2 separate regions of the Homo sapiens genome follow, and region 2 is linked to region 1. The links come from fine-mapping of genetic effects on gene expression. Tissue or cell type: whole blood. Region 1 holds a variant in brackets; the other region holds the start of a gene. All regions are shown on one strand. Distances are between the middles of the regions.

Region 1 (8,102 bases):
GCCACACTTGACACCCAAACGCTGATTTTGTTTACATGAGACTCAGGTCCGAGTTTATGTCTGAGACCTGGGAATCAAAAAGCCACCCCCACAGCCTCCAGGGACCTGGCTCCCCTGGAGCCACCGTGCTGCCCCACAGGTGTCACCCATGGAGGCTGCAGGAGCACCTGGCGTGGTCCAGGGGACACGAAGCCCTGGTGCTGGCTCCTCCCAACGCCCCTGTGAGTTCTGCCTCCCATAGACCACATGTGTCATCTGCGTGCACATGTGTGAAACCCGAAAGACAAGCAGATGAGACCCGCCTGCCAAAATATTTGCTGCCGCGCAGAACAGTAAGTCGTTTTTGACATATGGATCTCAGCGCGCAGCCACAGCAAACAGGCAGCGTGGCGCTGAGGGGCACAGGTTTGCTGGGGGGCGTGAGCCGGGAGCATCGCCAGCAGCAGGCTCGCCCCCCTGCGAGGGCGCGCACGGATTCGCTCGCCACCAAGAGCAGGGCCCCAAGAGGGGCCCTCGGCATAGTCCCCTCGAGTCCCCAGAACTTCACAGGCAGAGAGCCTGGCTCGAGGATGGGCGGGAGCTCAGTCTGGCTTTGATCTGCGGGAGGTGTTGTGTGCAGAAGCTGTGGGCACCGGGGGCTGCAGAGCTTCAGACCTGGAGCCTGCTCCCAGGGCCGATCTGAACCCGGCACCTGTGCTGACCCAAGGGTCAACCAAAGTCCTGAGTTTGGTGGCGCCGAGGGAGGGGAGTGGTCGCATCCCACCGGGTGCCTGGAATGGTGCTGGAGGAGGCAGCATCTGATTTGGGCCCCGTAGGGCCAGAGGGGGGATTTGTAGGGACAGAGCAGGAGGGAGTGGAGCTGAGGCTGGGGGAGGGCATGGTCGGAGGTCCAGAGGTGGGAGAGGGGCCGCCATCCTGAAGCACACCCCTCCTCGTCTTCCTGAGGCCTCCATCCCTTCCTGATCTTCCAGGTCATGGGCTCCAGGCTTGGGCCCACTGCTGTCCTTCTCCACTCTCTCCCCAGGGAACCCACCTGGGTTGTGGCCTTAAACCCAGCCAGATGATGCTTCTCCAGCCTCTGCCTCCTGCCGGGCCCTCCCCTGAGCTCAGAAGCTGCCATCAGTAGCCATGCAACCTCCCCCTTGCCATCATGAAGTATCTCAAACTTGGCAGCCTCGAAACAGAGCCCTTGGGGAGTTTAAGCAGAAACAGAATATTTTTGCATAGTCTTAAAGTAATTCCCCCCACCCCCAAATATTGAGCAATTACAAAGGGCAAAATAGGAAGTTTACGGTGGAGAATCCTGGTGGACACAGCCTTGGCCAGGTGATCAAGGTTCATGTCACCAGTCATGAAGCGGCGTGCACCCCTGGTGTGCTGAGAAGGGCAGCTTACCTCCTGCAGGTGCCCTTGCCCCAACGCACCACTCAGCCTAACCATGGGGAGCATCCGACAAAACCAAGCTGTCCGCATCTCCAAGGACAGGCACACTGGGGCTTAGGGCTTCAGTGGGGGCGGAGGTACAGTTCACTCCCTAATACGCCATTTACTTGGAGAAGCCCTCTCCAGCTGCCTGAGGCAGAAGCACCCGGTTCTCTCTCTGCAGGACCCCTGCTTTGTTCTTCCTAGGATGCGTCAGCCCCTGATTTTCCATGACAGTCCCCTGTGCCCATGTCCTGCAGCCTCTCCTGGGGGCAGGAGCTACAGGGTTTCTTGACTCCTACCTCAGCACTTTGGTCCAAGCTCTGAGCAGAGACCTCTGTAGGCGTCTGCAGGACTGGCTGGCCCTTGTGTCTGTCTTTCCCCTCGTCCTGGCCCCCTTTGTCCACTCCTGCACCAGCTTCCCTGGACCCACTGCCACTGCGTCACGTGGTCGGATCTGTGTCCCCTGCACTCTCACCACCTCCAACTTGCATCCCGGTCCCCCACACCCTGACCCCCAAAGGCATTGTGCATGTGGATGAGTGAGTGAAGGAAAGGCTGGCGTGTTGGGTGTGCGAGGTCGCAGGGGCATGAGGTGCCTGGACGGCAGAGAGCCAGGGCTGGGTGAGGACCTGGGTGCCAGGTCGGGGGTCTGGGCAGCCTGGTGGCCCCCTGAAAACGTTCACATCCCTTGGGGCCTGCTGTGATACATACTAATCAGTGCTTCATGAGAAAGGTATGAGCCGAAAGAAATGGGGGTTCCCACTGGATTGGTCGTTTCTGCATTGTCCGGAGCTCTCAGACCTGGTTTCTTAACCACTGTGTTCACTGAACACCCCGGGCTTGATCAGCTGCTGAGGGTGACTTCACATGAGATTATAATTGTACTGCCTAATAGAGTGCTCACACATGTTAAAACTACCTGGCAGGCAGGAGTGAGAATACAGCTTTCCCAGAAACGTGTTCAAAGAAAAACCCATTACCAACCCGGCAGAACATAAAGTACTAGTGTGGGGTATGAGGCAGCATGTGGGGGCGCTGGGGTGGCAGCAGGGCCAGACCCCACTTCAGGGGTTGCCCCCAGGACCCCCCTTGCGGTACCCGTATATCCCACCCCCAGACTCCTTTCCATGAGCTGCTCCCAGACCCCCTCATATCCATCCTGCCTCCAGAACCCCTATATCTTGCTCCCACTCCCTACCATATGCTGTTCCCAGACCCCCCTCCATGGCCTGCCCCCAGATCCCCCTTTGCTGCCACCCCTATATCTTACCCCAGACTCCCCCATATCTCGCCCCCAGACCCTCCTCCATGGTCTGCCCCCAGGCCTGCTGGTAATATGGGATACAGAGGTCTCCTCACTGCACACACAAAACTCCTTCCCTGAGCGAGGGATAGGCAGAGCTGAGGGCGGGGGTACTGGGGGGCTGAGGGGGGTTCTTTAGGGCAGGAGTTACCTGCCCTGTAGACGGGGAGACCACATTAGTGTTTGTGCAAAGCCCTGCCCTCGTGCACCTGTCCTTCCGTAGCCCACGATACCTCATCCAGCCCGGGCCCGTGGGTGGGCTGCTGAGCACCCGACCACAGCCAGGCCTCCATGTGCCACTGTCAAGGGGACTTGGCCCGCCATGATCCTGAGTGCACAGGTACATTGCTCCGCCCTCTCAACAGCCACGACCCAGAAATAAAGTAGGCACTGTAATTTGCATTTTGAGGATAAGGAAACCGAATAATAGAGTCTACTGAGCGCATACTCAGTCTTTCCAGACCCTAGAAAGTAGGTACCATTGTCATCCTCATTTCAGAGCTAGGAGAGCAGAGGCCAGACAGGTTCCATAGCCTGCTCAGGTGGGTCCGTGCTGGACCAGGAGAAGGGCCAGGTAGGCTGATGGGTCCTGAGCTTGTGCTCCCGACCGCCAGGCTGTGTGTCTGATGGCCGAGGCCAGGGTGGCTCAGCCAAGCCCAGCCAACCCAAGACTAGACCATCCCCAGCGTCCACCCCAGCCTCCTGGGCACAGGGGTCACCTCCCACCCCTGGCCCACCCATACAGCCTTTTCCCATCTAACCTTTTCTTTAAAGGAAGGCATCCCTTGGAATGAGTCCACCCTGAGATTTTATGGATCCAAAGAAAAAACTTAATTAGCTGCATAAACTGTCAGTTGAGACTCTCCAGAGGACACACCTCCGGCTTTCAGGTTCCCCAGGGAATCTGAGGCTCTGAGGCAGGTGGACAGCCAGGTCCCTCTTTACCCAGCACCAGGTAACCTTAGAGGCCTGGCCCTGCCTTCCTCATTTTGAAATGTCACCCTGTGGTCATCTCTCCTTCCCTGATGTGAAGCAGTGACCAGTTCTGCCCCATCCTACACATGTGTGCACACATACATGCACACATGTGTAAATACACATGCATGCACATGCATATGTGTGCACACATATGCACATACCTTCACCTTCCTATCCCTCCCCAGGGGAAGGCCTTCCTTGGGGCTGCCCCTCCTCCACTCTGGCAGCATTGGGACTTGAATCTTGTGGCCCCGTCACAACTGTACTCAGCTACTCCAGCTCCTTGTGTGACCTCTCAGCCCCCAGGCTCTGAGCTACCTGAGGTGAGGTGGGGCCACACTGGTCCCCACCTCGGTGCAGCACACACAGCCCCATCCTGGGAGTGCCACCCAGGTTTCCTCTAACTGTGCTTTCCAAGGGCTGGAAGGACCTCTTCCTCTATGCCAGGTGTGCTAGAGTGGCCCCAGCCGAGAACCTGACTGGGACCAAGCCCCAGGACAGTGGTCAGGCACACACCTGAGTCGCTCTTCCTCCCATAGACACATTTGGAGTTCCCACTGCCTTCCTAGGCCCCACCACATGCTGTCACCTCCAGGAAGCCTTCACAGGTTGCTCCCTGCTGATAGCCTTGACCTGCTTCCCAGGGCATTTGCAAGGGAGTAGAACGAAGACCAAGTCCGTGCAGGGGCTGCTGGCTCTGTGCT[C/G]AGCACACGCCCCGTGACCACCTCAGGGGCGGCTCTGCGAGTCCCCACTTGACAGGTGAGCCACAGGGCCACAGGCATGGCTTGGGGTCCTCTGCGGAGCCCGATGTGTCACTGGCCCTCACGTGTCCTTCTCCGATCTGCTCACTCATTCATCCATTCATTTATTCAGCAGGGGTTCTTGAGTGTCTCTGAGGTGGAGCGTCTGCTGTGAAGGACTGGCGGGACGCAAACGGTTACCACTGGTGTGACGGGCTCTGATCAGGAGGCACAGGGTGTTGGGGAGCTCAGAGGGTGACATCTCACCCTGCCTTGGCCAGTGTGGGAGGGAGAGGGTTCAGGGAGGATGTAACTGTGTGTGTGGCAGGTGCTGTGGTGGCACAGAGCTGAGGGGACATAGGCACAGTTGCTGGATGCAGGGCTTACACCGCGCCACGCGTCAGAAGCTAGCAGGGGCTGAGCAGCATCTCTGCCCTCCCCGCTTGCACCCCCACCATCCAGTGCAGCCCAGCACCTAGGGGGCATGGGGCCAGTGCCTGGCACATTTTGTCCTGACTGTGGAAAAAAGCTCTTCACAGCCCTGAGTGCTGCTTTAGCTTTGGCTCCACCCATCTTAGGCTGCTCAGAGGCCTCAGGCCTCCCTGGAGGGCCAGAAGGGATTCCCAGGGGCAGGATAGCACGGACGGGGGGGTCCGCTGTGTAAGCCTGGGAAATTCTGGCTGCTTGAAGCTGGCACACTCCCCTGAGGCTGTTCCAGGCACAGTCACTGGGTCTCCCCGTCGAAGTGGCTCTAAGGCAGGTCTTCCCGGTTACCAGCAAGCAGATACATGTTGTAACGGGCTGAGAGTGGGTGTGTATCTCATATTCCCCAGAGGAGCTTACGGACAGCCCCTCTTTAAGGAACATCTCCCGGGCCGAGCGTTCTGAGCGCCCTCTGAGCAGGCAGCCCACCACCGGGGCGCTGGCCAGTCTGAGTCAGTCCTGCCTGGGAGGCAGTCAACTCTGGGGAAGGCAGAAGAATCACAGCACTGAGTGCCGTCCAGTTTCCCCTCAACTATATTCGCGGACACGGCGCCAACAGGGGAAAACTTACATAGCACCTATTCATTCTGAGGCCTGGCCGGCCTCTGGAAATCAGCATTTCAGTGTTGGCCAGGAAGGAGGCCAGAACTGTGCTGTAGCATTTCAATGTATGGCTGTCCCACAATTTATATTCCAGTCCCCTGATGATGGACATGTAGGCGGTTTCCAGTTTTTTTCATGATCACAGATCACACTTCTGTGAACAGCTCTGGATGTGTCTCCTTGTGCAAATATGGTGCTAGGTGTTCTTCAGAGCATTTTTCTCCAAACTTGCCGGGTAATATGGTCACCTTGGGGAGTTTGTTAAATATACATATTTCCAGGTCTGCTCTGGTGGGTCTGATATTTGGAGCCAGGAATCTTTTCTTTCTTTTAACAGATACTTAAGTGATTCCTGTGGTCCAGGAAGTTTTGCAAGCTCTGATGCAGAAGAGCTCGCTGGAGCAAACATGTATGTTCTGTTTTACTAATTAGATATACGCTGTTGATGACTCCAAAGTGGACGTGCCATTTCTGTCCCCTCCAGCAGTAGGAAAGAATCCCATTATCCCACATCCTGGCCAGTTCTTGGTATTGTGAGATTTTTTTAAACTTCTTCTCTTAAGACTATGATGGTATTTTGTTGTAATATAATCCACATTTTCTATATTATTACTGTGCTTGAGCACTTCTTCAAATGTTTGATGACCTTGACCATTGAAACTTCCTTTTTGTGAATTACCTATTCATATCCTTTGTAGCTTCACTGTGGAATGCTTGTTACTGATTTGTAGCCATTCTTTATACATTTCACTCCCACTCGTTTGTCAGTTATATGTGGTGCACACATCTGCTCCCAGTCTGTGGTTTGTCTTTCCACTTTGTTTATGGCCTCTTATTGGGACACAGTTTTAAATTAAAATATAATCAGATGTATTAATCATGATGTTGTAGTTTGTGCATTTTCTATCTTGTCTAAGAAATTCATCCCTCTCCTTGTTATACTTAGAAAGAAGGATATTCTACATTCTCCTTCAGGAGTTCTAAAGATTTGCTTTGCACATTCAGGTTCCAAATCTACTTGAATTTGACTTGTGTATATGGTGTGAGGTAGGGATTTGATTTTATTTTCTATGTGGATAACAGTTGTTCCATTATCACTTTTGAGTAGTCCACCTTTTCTCTCACTGACTTATAATGCCACCTCTGTCATGTCAGCTTTTCATATTTATCAGTTCCTGTTAAATGTATCTTTAAAGCTTTATTGAGACATAATTCACATGATACAATTTACCCATCTAAAGTGAATAATTAATGTTTTTATTATATTCATACACCATCGCTATCAGTCAATTTTAGAACATTTTCTTTTTTTTTTTCTTTTTTTTTTTTTTGAGATGGAGTCTTGCTGTTGTCACCCAGGCTAGAGTGCAATGGCACAATCTTGGCTCACTGCAACCTCTGCCTCCTGGGTTTAAGCACTTCTCCTGCCTCAGCCTCCTGAGTAGCTGGGATTACAGGCACCCGCCACCACACCCAGCTAATTTTTGTATTTTTAGTAGAGACGGGGTTTCGCCATGTTGGCCAGGCTGGTTTTGAACTCCTGATCTTGGGTCTTGGGATCCACCCGCCTTGGCCTCCCAAAGTGCTGGGATTACAGACGTAAGCCACCATGCCCGGCTATTTTCATTACCCCCAAATAAACCTTGTACCCTTTAGTTACCTCCTCATCTCTGTAACCCTAAGCAAATACTCATCTGCTTTCTGCCTTTGTGGGTTTCCCTGTTCTAAATATTTTTTATGAATGGAGTCATATAGTATGTGGCCTTTTCTGTCTTCTTTTACTCTGCGTGTTTTCAAGGTTCATCCATGTTGTAGCATGTATCAGGACTTCATTTCTTTTTATGGCTGAATAATGCTCCACTGTATGGATAGAACACAGTTATTTATTCATTCCTGTGTTAGTGTATATTTGGGTTGTTTCTGCCTTTGGCTATTGTGAGTAATGCTGCTATAAGGATTCATGGGCAAGTTTTTGTGTGGACATAGGTCTTCATTTCTCTTGAATATATGCCTAAGGAGTGGAATTGCTGGGTCACGTGGTATCTATTTTTAATCACTTGAGGAATTGCCAGACTATTCAAAAGCAGCTGCACCATTTTATGCCATTTTACATTCCCACCAGTAGTGTATGAGGGCTGATTTATCTATGTCCTTACCAACGCTTCTTATCTGACTGTTTAATTCTAGCCATTCTAGTGGCTGGTGAAGTACTATCTCATTCAGATTTTGGTTTGCAATTCCCTACAATGATGACTAGTGATGTCAGGCATCTTTTCTTGTACTTATTGGCCACCTGTATGTCTTCCTTGGAGAAATGTCTATTCAAATTTTTTGCACAATTTTAATACATACATATATGTATATACACACACACACACACACACATTTTTTCTTTTTAAACAGATTCTGCTTTGTCGGCCAGGCTGGAGTGCAGTGGCACAATCTTGGCTTACTGCAAGCTCCGCCTCCTGGGTTCATGCCATTCTCCTGCCTCAGCCTCCCAAGTAGCTGGGACTACAGGTGCCCACCACCACACCCAGCTAATTTTTTGTATTTTTTAGTAGAGATGG
Region 2 (8,102 bases), 120 kb before region 1:
TGACACTGGTATACTTGTTGCGGTATCTAGCCTCAAAAAATGGCCACGCCTAATCAACCATGCTGCTTAGTGCTCATGCCCCTGTGTCATCCACTCCCACACTGAGCCTGGCCTGGCCCTGGGTGACCAGTACAACATGGCTGAAGTGACTCTGTGACTTCCAAAGCTAAATCACAGGAAGCCCTGCAGCCTCCACTTTGTTCCCTGGGAACACTTGCCCTGGAGACATTTCCTCTTTGACTCTTGCTGTCATGCTGTGAGATACACAAGCCACATGCAGAGGCCATGTGTAGGACTCCAGAAAATAGCCCACATCAACTGACAGCCATCTTCCAGGTTCCTAGGGCCACCCAGACCTCCTGAATCTAAACCTGTTTTAAAAAGCCTTCCAGGTGATTCTAATGCACATTAAAGTTTGAGAAGCATTTCTTTCTTTCTTTCTTTCTTTTTCTTTCTTTCTTTCTTTCTTTCTTTCTTTCTTTCTTTCTTTCTTTTTCTTTCTTTCTCTCTCTCCCTCTCTCTCTCTCTCTCTCTCTCTCTCTCTCTCCCTCCCTCCCTCCCTTCCTCTCTCTCTCTCTCTCTTTCTTTCTTTCTTTGAGACAGAGTCTCGCTCTGTTGCCCAGGCTGGAGCACAGTGGCGCAATCTTGGCTCACTGCAACCTCTGCCTCCCAGGTTGAAGTGATTCTCCTGCCTCAACCTCCCGAGTAGCTGGGACAATAGGCCTGTGCCGCCACGCCCAGCTAATTTTTACATTTTTAGTAGAGACGATGTTTCCCTGTGTTGGCCAGACTGGTCTCGAACTCCTGACCTCAGGTAATCCGCCCGCCTTGGCCTCCCAAGGTGTGAGCCACTGTGCCCGGCCTGAGAAGCATTTCTGTTATTAATGGTGCTCTGATTTTTTTTTCCACTATAGCCCATCTCAATAAAACAGAAGATTCTTTGGCTCATATGGCCCTCACTTGGTCTGGTCTCACTTTCCAGGGAGATGGGATTTGATAATAAGAAAGGTCTTGGTGACTGGTGGGCACCTGCTACTTTTGCCTATACCATGTTGCTTCCTTATTCCTCTTTCACAGTGCCCTGCTTTTTTGCTTTCTTTTCTCTCTCTTTTTTTTTTTTTAGAGAAGTCTTGCTATATTGCCTAGGCTAGGATACAGTGGCCATTCACAGTTGCAGTTGCAGTCATGTACACTATAGCCTCCAACTCCTAGGTTCAAGTGATCTTCTTTTTTTTTTTTGAGATGGAGTCTCGCTCTGTCGCCCAGGCTGGAGTGCAGTGGCGTGATCTTGGCTCAGTGCAACCTCCGCCTCCCGGGTTCAAGCGATTCTCCTGCCTCAGACTCCTGAGCAGCTGGGATTACAGGCGTGTGCCACCACGCCTGACTAATTTTTGTATTTTTAGTGGAGATGGGGGTTTCACCATGTTGGTCAGGCTGGTCTTGATCTTCTGACCTCGTGATCCACCCGCCTCAGCCTCCCAAAGTGCTGGGATTACAGGCGTGAGCCACCACGCCCAGCTTCAAGTGATCTTCTTGCCCCAGCCTTTGGAGTAGCTGGGACTTCACGTATGTGCTGCCACGTCCGGCTAATGCGCCCTGCTTTTTGCTGGAGGGCTTGTCCTCTCCCTTTCCTTCTGGTCATGGTGGGACTATAGGCAAGTGTCCCACCTCCAGCCCTGGTAAGGGCACCAGTCAGGCTGGAACATCACAGTATCACTTCCATTGGAACACAGACAATGGGGGACACTGACCCAAGAGAGCCAATCAGAGTTCTTTCTGGAACAGCCAGACCAAGTTGAGGAAAAGGATCCTCACCAGGTGGTGTACCGGAGACTCTGTGAGCCCAGAGCTGATAACCAGCCATGCCTGACGCTGTCCATTGCTAGACTATCTGGTTGTGCGAGCCAATAAATTCCTTTAAATTGAAGCCATTTGAAATTTGGCTTCTGTCACTGGCAGCCGAAGAGTCCTGACTATGACAAGCAAATCTGAAAGGATGAGGCATATGTCTAGTATAGCAATAGATGGTTGATAGATTCATAGTTGAGCTGAAATTCAGACATGAGTTGTAGATTTGCTATAACAGGCTGAAAGCTCAGTCAGTGGTGTATGCTTCCTGGCACACTATGGTGTTCATGTGCCACCTGGCTAGCTCTGGCCCAAAAGATGCAAATGAGAGTCCATTGGATCAGGGTTCTGGGAAAGCTTTTGCTTTCTGGGTATAAAGGGTCAGACTCAGCTGTCACATGCCCTTTTTTCTTTTCTTTCCCCTCCTTCCTGCCTGAAATGCAGTCATGATGCCTCGGGTGGAGCAGGAATCTTGCTAGCGTGAGGAGCAGGCCACATGCTGAGAGAGTGGTGGAGCAGAAAGCAGGAGGCAGCCTGATGGTCCTGGGAGCTGTTGTCCCATCCAGGATTTCCTCCCTCTTGGCTTCTTGATATATGAGGAAAAGTAAAATCTGATTTGGTTGGGCAACTATGGCTGGGTTTCTGTTACATGTAGCCAAATGCAACCCTAACATAGACAATGCCCTACACTCATTGCATCCCAAGAAAAGCCTGGAATTTTCAGATCAAGTTTTAGCCTATCAGTGGCCCACACTTAGAGACTTGCCACATTTTTCAGGTGAGGGACCTGGATCCCTGTATTTGTTTCTTGTCACTACTGCAAGAAATTACCATATACTTAGTGGCTTAAAACAACAGATTTATTATTATAGTTCTGGAGGTAAGAAGTCCTAAACTTGAAGTACCAGCAGGGCTGCATTCCTTCTGGAGGCTCTAGGGGAGAATCCAATTCTTTGCCTTTTTTAGCTTCCAGAGGCCACCTGCATTTCTTGGCTCATGGCCCCTTTGTATTCAAGGCCAGTAGCACGGTATCTTCACACCTCTCTCTCTGACCTCTGCTTCTGCTGTCACACCTCCTTCTCTGACTCTGACTCTCTCCTGCTTCCCTCTTTCCCTTATGAGGACTCATGTCATTATACTGGGCCCACCTGGACCATCCAGGATAATCTCCCTACAGGAGCATAGGCTCTGCAAGATCTAAGTCCCTTTTGCCATGTCAGGTAATATATTTAGAGGTTGTGGGGATTGGGAGGTGGACATCTCAAGGGGGCACTATTCTGTCTACTGTAGTCGTAGAAATGAAAAGGGACTTGCCCAAGAGTACCCACAGAGCTGACTGAAAAGAAACAACTATGGGTAGGCTCACACCACTGGCAGAAGCACCCCTTTTCCTCCTCCTTGGCATGAAGCTAAAGCCCAGCCATTCTCCAAGGTCCATTTCAGGCTGCCCCTGCCCAGAAGCCACAGCTGCCCTCCTAGGCCTGCAGAGGTCATCCTCTTGACTGTGTCTGTGTCACTCATTGCCACTTGGCACACATTTGGTCAGCAGTCGTGAAGGTCTTCCATTGTTCTCTGCCCAGTCTTGATCCTGGAAGGCAAGGATCACACCCTAGAACTTTTTTGTGCCCACTGCACAGAGTAGGGTCTCAATACGTGTACGGTTCATGATGTTCCTAGCAGATTCTCCAAACTGACTCACTCAGCCCCTGGAACACTAAAAACTGCATTTCCCAGACTCCTTTGCAGCGTGGGCTAGGTTCCACCAAGCCAGACACAGTGAAAGTGAGTGGGTGGCCACAGGTGGAGGGCACAGTGGTGGATATGTTTTGTTCTTTTGGGGGCAGCTATGCTGGGGGCTGCACTAAGTGATGGGGCAGTGGTCCCAATGGAGTAGTAAAATTAAGTGTTTCTCGTGGCTGCATGGCTCCTGGCTGTGTAGGACTTAGACCCGTCATCTGTAAGCTCCTTCACCTCATGTAAACAAAACCCCTCTAGCTGGAGTGGTGTCTATTGTCTGCGACTAAGAACCCTTATATAAGGTATACTACTCCCCAACCCCATTAGTGGAAATCCCAAAGGGTAGGAACTGTATTTTATTTCACTTGTAAACAGCTCCCCTAGTAAGCATGTCAACAAAATATACACAATTCATTGAACCCCATAACATTTCAACGAATTCCTCATCCTTTCTGTGAATCAAGAGCCTGAAAAGAAATGGTGAAATAATATGATCCTCTCTTCTTTGAAAGCTCAAAGCTATGTTGGACCAGAAGTAAAGTGTTCTCGTTTCTATTTAATAACTTGAAAGGTTCCGAGGGGCCATTGAGGAAACTCCTCCCTTTTAATATCAATGTGTATTTATTGCAAAAATAATGTAGCATCGAGTGGTATTTTATAGCTTATCCAAAAACCTCCTGGGTTTAACGCATTGTGATAGTCCCGTTTTCTTCTCAGCCCAGGTCCTATGCATCCTCATCTATGCAGGGCTGTTATCTGCATATAATTTTTTTTTTTTTTAAGACAAAGTCTTGCTCTGTCGCCCCGGCTGGAGTGCAGTGGTGCAATCTCGGCTCACTGCAACCTCCGCCTCCCAGGTTCAAGCGGTTCTTCCGCCTCAGCCTACCGAGTAGCTGGGACTACAGGCATGCGCCACCACACCTAGGTGATTTTTGTATTTTTAGTAGAGACAGGGGTTTCACCATGTTGACCAGGCTGGTCTCGAACTCCTGATCTCAAGCGATCCACCCGCCTCAGCCTCCCAAAGTGCTGGGATTACAGGCATAAGCCACTACGCCCGGCCTCAATTTTGTATTGTACTTTTTCTTTCTTTCTTTAATAGAGACAGGGTCTCACTATGTTGACTAGGTTGGTCTAGAACTCCTGGGCACAAGCTGTCCGCCCGCTTCTGCCTCCCAAAGTGCTGGGATTGCAGGCGTGAACCACCGCCCCTGGCTACAGGTGCCTTCTTGTCTCAATTTGCCTTTGACCTTTCTTAGGGACTTGTTTTCTGCTTTTCCTGCTCTTTGTCCGCTGATCTCCTGGGAAGAAAGCTTCCGAAAAGGACACCGTTTCAGGGGCGAGTGACGCCGGGGTGCCCAGGCCGCGCCCCAGTTCCGGGTTTGCACCCGGTCTTCTTGCCCTGCCCCGCCCGCGGGACTACAGTTCCCAGGCGCCCCTGCGCGGCCGCGGCGCCGGCGCCGGCGTCGGTTGGGACGCGGAGCTGAGGAGCAGGGCCGGGCGCCATGGCACCGTGGGGCAAGCGGCTGGCTGGCGTGCGCGGGGTGCTGCTTGACATCTCGGGCGTGCTGTACGACAGCGGCGCGGGCGGCGGCACGGCCATCGCCGGCTCGGTGGAGGCGGTGGCCAGGTGAGTGGGCCCCGGGACGCCGCTGGGGCCGCCGAGCTCTAAGCTCAGCCCGCTCCCTGGCTGCCGGCAGGGGGCGGGGCGGCAGGGGGCGGGGCCGCGGCGCAGGCCCCGCCTCGGTCTCCCCCTTCCCACCCCGGTGCGCGCACAGTGCTGACCACGGACGACCCCACTGTTGCCCCCGGCGAGCACCAGGACTCTGCTGGTTAGGGCTGCGCGGTCAGACAGGGCGGCCACCTGGTACGTGCGCTGCTGAGCGCTTGACCTGCGGCCAGTCTGAATTGAGATGTGCTGTAAGCGTAAAATGCATACCGATTAACAAGACTTAGCCGGGCGCGGTGGCTCGCATCTGTGATTCTAGCACTTGCAGAGGCAGAGGAGGGAGGATCGCTTGAGGCTAGGGGGTTGGAGACCACCCTGGGCAACATAGGGAGACCCCGTCTCTGCCAAAAATTTAAAAATTAGCCGGGTGTGGTGGTGCACGCCTGTAGGCCCAGCCACTTGGGAGGCTGAGGCAGGAGGATCGCTTGAGCCCAGGAGGTCAAGGCTACAGTGAGCTGTGATCACCCCACTGTACTCTAGCCTGGACTGCAGAGCGAGACGGTCTCATAAACAAAACCCCCAAAAACACCAGACTTCGTGAGTAAAATGTAAAATAAAAACATGAAAATGGGTTATGTTGTTTGCCTGTTGAAATGATATACTTTTTGTTTGTTTTGTTTTGTTCTTTTCAGATGGAGTCTTGCTCTGTCGCCCAGGCTGGAGTGCAATGGCACGATCTCGGCTCACTGCAACCTCCGCCTCCCGGGTGCAAGTGATTCTCCCCCTTCAGGCTCCCGAGTAGCTGGGATTACAGGCACCCGCCATCATGCCCAGTTACTTTTTTTATTTGTTTTGTTTGAGACGGAGTTTTGCTCTTGTTGCCCAGGCTGGAATGCAGTGGTGCAATCTCTGCTGACTGCAACCGCCGCCTCCCAGGTTCAAGCGATTCTCCTGCCTCAGCCTCCTGAATAGCTGGAATTACAGGCATGTGCCACCACACCCGGCTAATTTTTTGTATTTTTAGTAGAGACGGGGTTTCACCATGTTGGGCAGGCTGGTCTCTAACTCCTGACCTCAGGTGATCCACCTGCCTCGGCCTCCCAAAGTGCTGGGATTATAGGCGTGAGCCACATGCCCAGTTGATAATATTTTTAATATACTGTTTTAGGTTAAAATATTTGAAATTAAGTATACCTTTTTTTTTTAACTTTTGTTAATGTGCTTATTAGAAAACTTTAAATTACCTTTGTGGCTCTCATTATAATTCTGTTGGACTGCATTGGTTTAGGTGAGAGGAGGAGGAAGAGAACATCGTGCCAGCCAAGACTTGACCATGAGGACACTTTTTTTTTTTTGAGACAGTTTTGCTCTTGTTGCCCAGGCCGGAGTGCAGTGGCGCCATCTGGGCTCACTGCAACCTCTGCCTCCCAGGTTCAAGTGATTCTCCTGCCTCAGCCTCCCAAGTATCTGGGATTACAGGCACCCGCCACCACGCCCAGCTAATTTTTGTATTTTTGGTAGACATGGGGTTTCACCATACTGGCTAGGCTGGTCTCGAACTCCTGACCTCAACTGATCCACCTGCCTGGGCCTTCTAAAGTGCTGGGATTACAGGCGTGAGCCACCGCACCTGGCTGACACTTTTCTTTGTATAATTTTTTTTTTTGAGACAAGGTCTCATTATGTTGCCAGGGTGGTCTTGAACTCCTTGGCTCAGGCAGTCCTCCTGCCTTGGTCTCCCAAAGTGCTAGGATTACAGGCATGAGCCACCACACCTGGCCTAATTTTTTTTTCTTTTTTTTTTTTTTTTTTTGAGACAAGGTCTTACTTTGCCACCCAGGCTGGAGTGCAGTGGTTCAATCTCACTGCAACCTCTACCTCAAGGGCTCAAGAGATCCTCCCACCTCAGCCTCCCAAGTAGCTGGAACTACAGGCACGTGCCACCATGCCCAGCTAATTTTTTTGTGTTTTTTGTAGAGATGGGGTTTTGCCATGTTGCCCAGGCCGGTCTTGAACTCCTGGGCTGAAGTGATCTGCCTGCCTCAGCTCCCAGAGTTCTGGGATTAGAGGTGTGAGCCACTGTGGCCAGCCAGAAGGACACTTTCAGTAGCATGGTTGGCACCACTGGACCTGGGCTTTGTAAGGCCTCCTGTTGGCATCCCAGGTCAGCACTGCCATGTGTTGATAGGCAGCCGGGAAGGGCTAACTGCCAGGACTTGGCCTCCCGGAGTCACTAGCTGAGGCACCCTGGCTTGGTAGCCTGATGTCACTGGGACTCAATATACCTATCTGTAGGTGGCAATTAACTGAGTCTCTTGGTCCTTCTTAGAGACCCCATTCTACCAATCTGCATGTCTGATGTCTGGGAGCTGCTGAGATAATAGGGACCCAAACGGTCCCGCATAGTGAAGCCGGAGGTGTTTGGGAGGCTGGGAACTGGGAACAGGGAGACTTGGCTTCCAGGAGCAAGCACAAAGGGCAGCCCAGACCTAGGACACTCCGCTGGGTCCTGGGTCTGCTCTCAGTGTTGGCTGAAGTTCAGGGTTAAGTGCATTCCTGACCTTATTCTCCATTACTCCAAAGCTTTAGACTAGCTCAGTCACAGATGAGAGCATTCTGTGAGTGGCACTGGTGGGAATCCAGCAGAGGGCTCTGGGCAGTGTTTTGGGGTGAAGTGGGCCTCATCTGGGGAGCAGGAAGCCAGAGCTCAATGCTGTGACTGGGGCAGGCAAGGCCTCATGGGAGACCCTGCCACTCATTGCTTGCGGAAGATACATTTGACATTATCTACCAGTGGTTCCACTTCTGAGAATTTGTCCTTGTCTCATGCGTGAGAAATGACATGAGT

Evidence for each region. PIP is the estimated chance that this variant, and not a neighbour inherited with it, causes the effect.
Region 2: LHPP starts here. The variant in region 1 is fine-mapped to the expression of LHPP in whole blood (TOPMed, PIP above 0.99).

The regions. Positions count from the first base shown.
Region 1 is chr10:124,573,873-124,581,974 of GRCh38, forward strand. The region is part of intron 6 of LHPP (phospholysine phosphohistidine inorganic pyrophosphate phosphatase); the gene reads left to right. Among named protein-coding and RNA genes, the nearest start is that of LHPP, 120 kb to the left of the region's middle. The variant C/G (reference allele first, on the strand shown) is at 4,411.
Region 2 is chr10:124,456,773-124,464,874 of GRCh38, forward strand. It overlaps LHPP (phospholysine phosphohistidine inorganic pyrophosphate phosphatase), which reads left to right and starts at 5,051. Exons shown (of 7, transcript NM_022126.4): 1 at 5,051-5,215. The coding sequence starts at 5,091. RefSeq lists a silencer at 4,931-5,390 and enhancers at 6,907-7,407, 7,408-7,908.